2 linked regions of the Homo sapiens genome follow. The protein of the gene in region 2 purifies or fractionates together with the protein of the main gene of each other region. This does not show direct contact. Each region holds a gene or a part of one and is shown on either strand. Other genes may lie near its edges.

What was found. Proteins that work in one complex are often made in the same cells at the same time.
Region 1: the proteins of DCK (region 2) and NUCKS1 fractionate together in Homo sapiens (co-fractionation; one large-scale study listed by BioGRID). This does not show direct contact.

The regions. Positions count from the first base shown.
Region 1 is NC_000001.11:205,729,562-205,733,216, forward strand, and holds part of NUCKS1 (nuclear ubiquitous casein and cyclin-dependent kinase substrate 1), read right to left. Parts: intron 1,792-3,655; exon of another isoform or gene 1,660-1,791; intron 61-1,659; coding exon 11-60; intron 1-10.
Region 2 is NC_000004.12:71,021,051-71,024,705, reverse strand, and holds part of DCK (deoxycytidine kinase), read right to left. Parts: intron 2,340-3,655; coding exon 2,146-2,339; intron 1,148-2,145; coding exon 1,000-1,147; intron 1-999. UniProt on the Homo sapiens protein: Phosphorylates the deoxyribonucleosides deoxycytidine, deoxyguanosine and deoxyadenosine. Has broad substrate specificity, and does not display selectivity based on the chirality of the substrate.

The DNA.
Region 1 (3,655 bases), on a different chromosome or scaffold from region 2:
CAAAACTTACCTGCATCATCAGATTCCTGAAACTGTGAGTAATCAACAACCTTCCTATTTCTGTAGAAAGAAGAGACTCTAATTAAAATCATAAAACTGTAGGATTTTTCTAAGACATCAGAACACACATTTCTCTTTCATAAACAGAACTGAACTAGCACTTTGAAAATTATTTAATTGCTGGACGTGGTGGCTCACACCTGTAATCCCAGCACTTTGGGAGGCCAAGGCTGGTGGATCATCTGAGGTTGGGAGTTTGAGATCAGCCTAACCAACATAGAGAAACCTTGTCTCTACTAAAAACACAAAATTAGCCAAGCGTGGTGGTGCATGCCTGTAATCCCTGCTACTTGGGAAGCTGAGGTAGGAGAATCACTTGAACCCAGGGGTCAGAGGTTGTGGTGAGCCGAGATACCTCCATTGCACTCCAGCCTGGGCAACAAAAGTGAAACTCCATCTCAAAAAAAAAAAAGAAAAGAAAAAAAAAGAAAATTATTTAATTAATTTTTTGAGACAGGGTGTCACTCTGTCGCCTAGGCTGGAGAGCAGTGACACAATCATGGCTCACTGCAACCTTGACCTACTGGGCCCAAGTAATCCGCCTGCCTCAGCCTCCTGAGTAGCTGGGACTACAGACGCATGCTGGCTAATTTTTTTTCATTTTTTGTAGAGACAGGGTCTCCTGGTGTTGCCCAGGCTGGTCTCAAACTCCTGAGCTCAGGTAGTCATCCTGCCTCAGCCTCCCGAAGTGCTGGGATTACAGGCACGAGCCACTGCACCCAGCCAAAAATTATTTTTTAAAGGCCCCCACTTAAGCCTAAGTACTTAACATTCTGTTATAAGAAAGCATAGCATAAACCACAAGTATGTCAAGCTACAATTCTCATACTGCTCATCTCAGTGATAATTCAAATACCATTCTTTTCTCTCTCTTTTTTTTTTTTTGAGATGAAGTCTTGCCCTGTCGCCCAGGCTAGAGTGCAATGGCGAGATCTTGGCTCACTGCAACCTCTGCCTCCCAAGTTCAAGCGATTCTCCTGCTTCAGCCTCCCGAGTAGCTGAGATTACAGGCGTGTGCCACCACGCCTGGCTAATATTTGTATCTTTAGTAGAGACGGGGTTTCACCATGTTGGCCAGGCTGGTCTCCCCTGATCTCGTGATCCGCCCGTCTTGGCCTCCCAAAGTGCTGGGATTACAGGCGTGAGCCACCGTGCCCGGTCTCAAATACCATTCTTTTCTACAAAACAATCTCCCGTCTCTCAAAACAAATATACATAAAACAGCAAAATGAGCCAAATCACCATGTACCTATGTATTCATTATATACAAAGATGCCCTATTTATAAGCTAAAGTTGTAAATGATATTTTACTCTTACTGCTACACACATATATATGTATACTTGATAAACAAGGTTATTACTAAGCTTTTCAAGGCAAAAGCAATTTTTAGGTATAGTACAGTTACATTATAATGCACAAAAATTATGGTAATGTTAAGCTTTATACAGAAGGGGAAGGAAACAAATTAATTGGTCCAGTCAAAAGATGCTTTATTTAAAAAACTATGAAAGCCTCACAGATTTATGTACATCTATGTATTTGACTCTATTCTTTTGTTTCTAAACTTTTTTTTTCCTTTTCCAATTTTACAGACCTGGTTTATCAGCAACATTTATAAAACTAGACCTCAGGAAAGAACTAGTTCTGGGGATATATGCATGGTCTTAATAAAGTGAATGGTTAGCCTGTCCTGACTATTACAAAATCAAAACAGTGAGAATATCTGCAGAATCTATTTGACTCTAAATGACTTTAAGTACTCCCTATCAAGTAACGTATCTTTAACATCTCAAACAAATCTTCATTTCTATTTTTGTACTCTGCACTCTAAATCTAAAAGTTTAATACTTCTTCTCTAGAGATATACATGTAAGCTTCCATGTTAGTACCCAAACAGCCTACCTGGCAAAAGAGCCTTAGATTAAAAAATGCACTGTTACTGTAGGCCTAAATTGATCAAGTGAACTTAAAAAATTAAGAGAAATAGGCCAGGCGCAGTGGCTCACGCCTATAATTTCACCACTTTGGGAGGCCGAGGCGGGCAGATCACGAGGTCAGGAGATTGAGACCATCCTGGCCAACGTGGTGAAACCCCGTCTCCACTAAAAATACTAAAAAATTAGCTGGGTGTGGTGGCGGGCGCCTGTAGTCCCAGCTACTCGGGAGGCTGAGGCAGGAGAATGGCTTGAACCCGGGAGGCAGAGCTCGCAGTGAGTGAGCCAACATCACGCCACTGCACTCCAGCCTGGGCGAAAGAGAGAGACTCCGTCTCAAAAAAAAAAAAAAAATTTAAGATAAATATACATTACCACCTATACTTAAACCTGAGCAGAGGGATATTCTTGGCTGTATAGATTAAGACACCATTTAAATTCAAAGACAGGATGGTCAGACTGCAAACACTGGTCCACCTTCTAGTATAGTATGTGGAGATGGTATGGATGGAGGTGAATTCTGGAAAAAAAGGCTTGGGCTTATATGTAGAGGAATATATAGTTACATACTCAGCATTAGAAAGAGAAAAAACAAGGCTCTTAAGGAGTTCCACCTTCTGTTTTTCTTTAGTTTAACAAAACTATAAAATATACTCCAACTATATATTTTATTGTAAGAAGCTGAGTTTATATTACCAAAGATACTATATTATTAGGAAAGCTAACTTTAAATATGACTATTAATTCCATGTACATGAGGGACCTAGAGTAGATGAATTCAGAGAGACAGAAAGTAGAGTGGTGGTTGCCAGAGGCTGGAAGAGTGGGGATGAGGAGCTGTTGTTTAGTGGGTTTAGTTTCAGTTTTGCAAGATTAAGAGTTCTTTACAACAATGTCAAGTACTTAACAATACTGAACTATACACTTAAAAATGGTTAACATGGGCCGGGCACAGTGGCTCATGCCTGTAATCCCAGCACTTTGGGAGGCCAAGGTGGGCGGATCATGAGGTCAAAAGATCGAGACCATCCTGGCCAACATGGTGAAAACCCGTCTCTAGTAAAAGTACAAAAATTAGCTGGGCGTGGTGGTGCGTGCCTGTAGTGCCAGCTACTTGGGAGACTGATGCAGGAGAATTGCTTGAACCTGGGAGACAGAGGTTGCAGTGAGCAGGGATCGCACCACTGCACTCCAGCCTGGCAACAGAGCAAGACTCTGTCTCAAAAAAAAAAAAAAAAGTTAAGATGGTAAATTTTATGCTAAGCATATTTTATTACAATAAAAATATATTTTCTTTCTTAAAAATATGACTATGAAAAAATCTAATATTTTTGGGCTACTATGGAAATGCCTGCCATGTTCTGGCAAAACAGTGATTTTTTAATGACAAATGCCATGAAAAATAGTATGATGATCATAATGCAAACACGACCATTTTCTGTATTATTTAGGATAAAAAAAATGGGTCATAGAACCAGGGGAAGAAAGGTATCTAGAAGAGGAACTCTTACATCTTATCCTCTAATAATTAAAATACAGGTTCCGAACTTGTAGGTATAATTCTAGCTTATCCCATGCTTGTGGGGTGGCAACTAACATATTATTACCCCATTTCTGGGTACGACGTAGCAATGGATATATCCTATGAAACTACATAAG
Region 2 (3,655 bases):
AAGTGAATTTCAAAATTCACTTTTGAAATTGCTAAAAAATTGCTAAATCCTTGCTTAATGAAGAACAAAATCTTTACTTAATGAAGAACAAAATCATCCGTTGGAATAGGAAACCTAATTTCTTTGAAAACCCAGCTTCGACAGCAACACAGTATTCTAATTTTAGGCCAGAAGTCATAACATTTACATTCATCAGTGCCTACCCTGTGACTTAAGGAAAAAATGAGAATTAAAAAACAGAAACAATAGAAATGCACGCACCAAAACCAGAAAGCTTCTGATTAAATGTAAGATCTTAATATTTAGGTTAGTTTTATGAAAGGCATCTATTTGGTCATCCTGTATTCATTATATAACATCATATGTAACTAGAATAGCTATGTTACAACCTATCACAAAAAGCACCTTTTCAAGTGAGCTCCCTTAATGGAAAATGGCAAGGGTCCTCTAAGTCTTTTCCCAACGATAGCTGCCATTATCCACTCATTCCAAGGCACAAACAACCATAATAAAATATTTCTTGATATGGACCTCCATCAACATTGCCATTCATTCAGTAAATATTTACTGAGCTCCTACTATATGCTCCAACAGTGCCCAGCACTGGGTGTTCTAGGCAATGGAAATTCAATAGTAATCAAAATGCCCAAGGTCCCACCTCATGAAGCCTATATTCTAGGAGTTGCTTGACCACATTCATTACTTTAACTGTGATGAATGAGAAGAGTCTGCAAATGTTAGAAAGAAATAATGAGTAAAATAAAAAAGAATTGAGGAAGCACAAAGAGCCTAAAACAGCAACTTGCCCAGTCTGGGATTCCAGTTTGCTGAGAAAAAAGAATGCTTCTATCTACACAGTTACAAGTTTCTAATTTAGAGGTGGGGAGTGGGAGGTTGGGAGGCTGGAGTTAAACTAAATTGCCCTCATTATATACCACTGAAAAGAGTTCTAAATATTTCTTTAAATTTTCAGTGAAACACATTTTTATTGGGTTTTACCTCTGGAGTGGCTTGAAGATAAATGATTCCATCCAATTCAAGGCTTTGGCCAAATTGGTTATTCATCCAGTCATGCCAGTCTTGATAAATTGTCCACTCTGTCTCATTCATGCATTCAGATTCATACAAATTAGATGCAAAAATATACCTAAAAGAGAGTCTTCATCAACACATGTATCATTTCAAAAAAAAACAACAAAGAAATAAAAAAGAGAACAGGAACATGAAACATTCTCCTAAATCCAGTGGCACATAGTGCCGTGGAAAGCAGAAAAAGACAAGAGTCTTTCCATCATGTTTTTGGCCAATGGTTCTCAAAATACGGAGTGAGGACCCCATTAAGTCCCCAAGATCTTCTAAGGGGTTCTGTGAGAGGCCAGATTACTTCATATACCAATATACTTCAAACAAACAAACATACCATAACAGATTAAATACAGAAGCATAAATAAAAATCCAGCTGTCTTTTAATAAGTGAGGCATTAAAGATATCTGCAAAAATGTAAAGCAATGATATTCTTCTAGCTACTTTTTATTTTAGAAAATATAACTTTTTGTCAAATGTATTTATATTAATATGTAATGAATTTATTATTGCTAATTTTAAATCATTTTTGTGCATCTTAATTTCTAGTAATGTTAAGTATCAATAGGACATGCTCTTTGGACACCTCGATAGTTATTAAGAATTGAAAAGGGCCCTGAGATCAAATGTTTGAGAACCTCTGTTCTGAGCTAACTTTGGAGGTCAAAAGAATCCTAGCATAAGTAGGGCAATTCTAAGGCCCCTTAGAGACTTTTATCTTCTTGATCCAGGTAAGAGTCTAGGATATAGATCCAGATTTAACCAGAGCAGATGAGAATTTTAAAAGGGTTAGAGGGAAAAACAACTTCTCTGCAAATTTAAATGAAATGGGCACCACCATATTCCCAACAGTTTCTATGGAAGCTGAGGATTATAAATGCAATAACTTCCCTAATGCCATTAGTACCAGACTGCTGAGGGATTTAAATGTCATTTTCCATCTTAAATCCCCAGCTCAGCCATTCATTATTACTAATTCCCAGGAAACATTAAAAAAAAAAAAAAAGTCCAGTTCTAAGATAAAAACTTCAAATGGCCACGTACAAGCCATTTATACATACCTGTCACTATACACAGATCGTTCAAAAAATAATACAGGTTTCTCTGCATCTTTGAGCTTGCCATTCAGAGAGGCAAGCTGAGCTCTTATTCGACTGAGACAGGCATATGTTTGGAAGGTAAAAGACCATCGTTCAGGTTTCTCATACATCATCTGAAGAACATTCCCACCATTTTTCTGAGACATTGTAAGTTCCTATTTTGAATGTGCAAAAAGAAATAAAAAGCAAAATTAATGGTCAATAGGGCTATTTTAATTTTTAAGGCTAAAAAATAAAAGTCAGATAAATAAATGTAATCATGATCAGCAAAACCAAGATGATTAAGTTCCCTTTCTCATACTCTTTCCCAATATATTTTTCAGATTGTCTGAGGTCTGGAAAATCCTTAGATCTTTCTCACAAGAGGTTACAAACTAATAACCTATGGAAGAAATCATTGTTTGGTCCAAAAGTCCTTTTTAAAACTTTGACTTAGTTTGTCAATAGTATTGTCAATATTTAAAAGCTAAATAATTTCACATAAAATATTTGGATTTACATCTTCTTTTTTTTCTTTTTTGAGATGGAGTCTTGCTCTGTTGCCCCAGCTGGAGTGCAGTGGCACGATTTCAGCTCACTGCAACCTCCACCTACCAGGTTCAAGCAATTCTCCCGCCTCAGCCTCCCAAGTAGCTGGGACTACAGGCGCGTGCCACCATGCCCAACTAATTTTTTACATTTTTAGTAGAGACGGGGTTTCACCGTGTTAGCCAGGATGGTCTCCATCTCCTGACCTCATGATCTGCCTGCCTTGGCCTCCCAAAGTGCAGGGATTACGTCTTCTTTTTAAAAATGAAAAAACCAAGCAGTACCATGCCCATATTCCCTCTTGGCAAAAATCAGCTAGAATCAAGTCACAGATGCCTCCTTTAGATGGGATATATGCTCTCTGGCTTATTAATCCCCACCATTCCCGGATGATTTTCATAACAGGCCTGATATATTCATTTGGCTGTCTGGCCCCTTTAGGCATTTGTATTTGTAACCCTCCAATCTTCTAATATAATACAATAGTTCCTGCCCCAGATTTTGCAATTCAATAATCTTATTGTTAGAACCACATTTTACATGTTGAGGAAAAATACAAATGTAAATTTTAAAATGAAGTAAAAACTCTTATCATCTTTTATCTGAGTTAGAAATAGCAGGCCGGGCGCGGTGGCTCACGCCTGTAATCCCAGCACTTTGGGAGGCCGAGGCGGGTGGATCATGAGGTCAGGAGATCGAGACCATCCTGGCTAACAAGGTGAAACCCCGTCTCTACTAAAAATACAAAAAATTAGCCGGGCGCGGTGGCGGGCGCCTGTAGTCCCAGCTACTGGGGAGGCTGAGGCAGGAGAATGGCGTGAACCCGGGAAGCGGAGCTTGCAGTGAGCCGAGATTGCGCCACTGCAGTCCGCAGTCCAGCCTGGGCGACAGAGCGAGACTCCGTCTCAAAAAAAAAAAAAAAAAAAAGAAATAGCATCTGGAA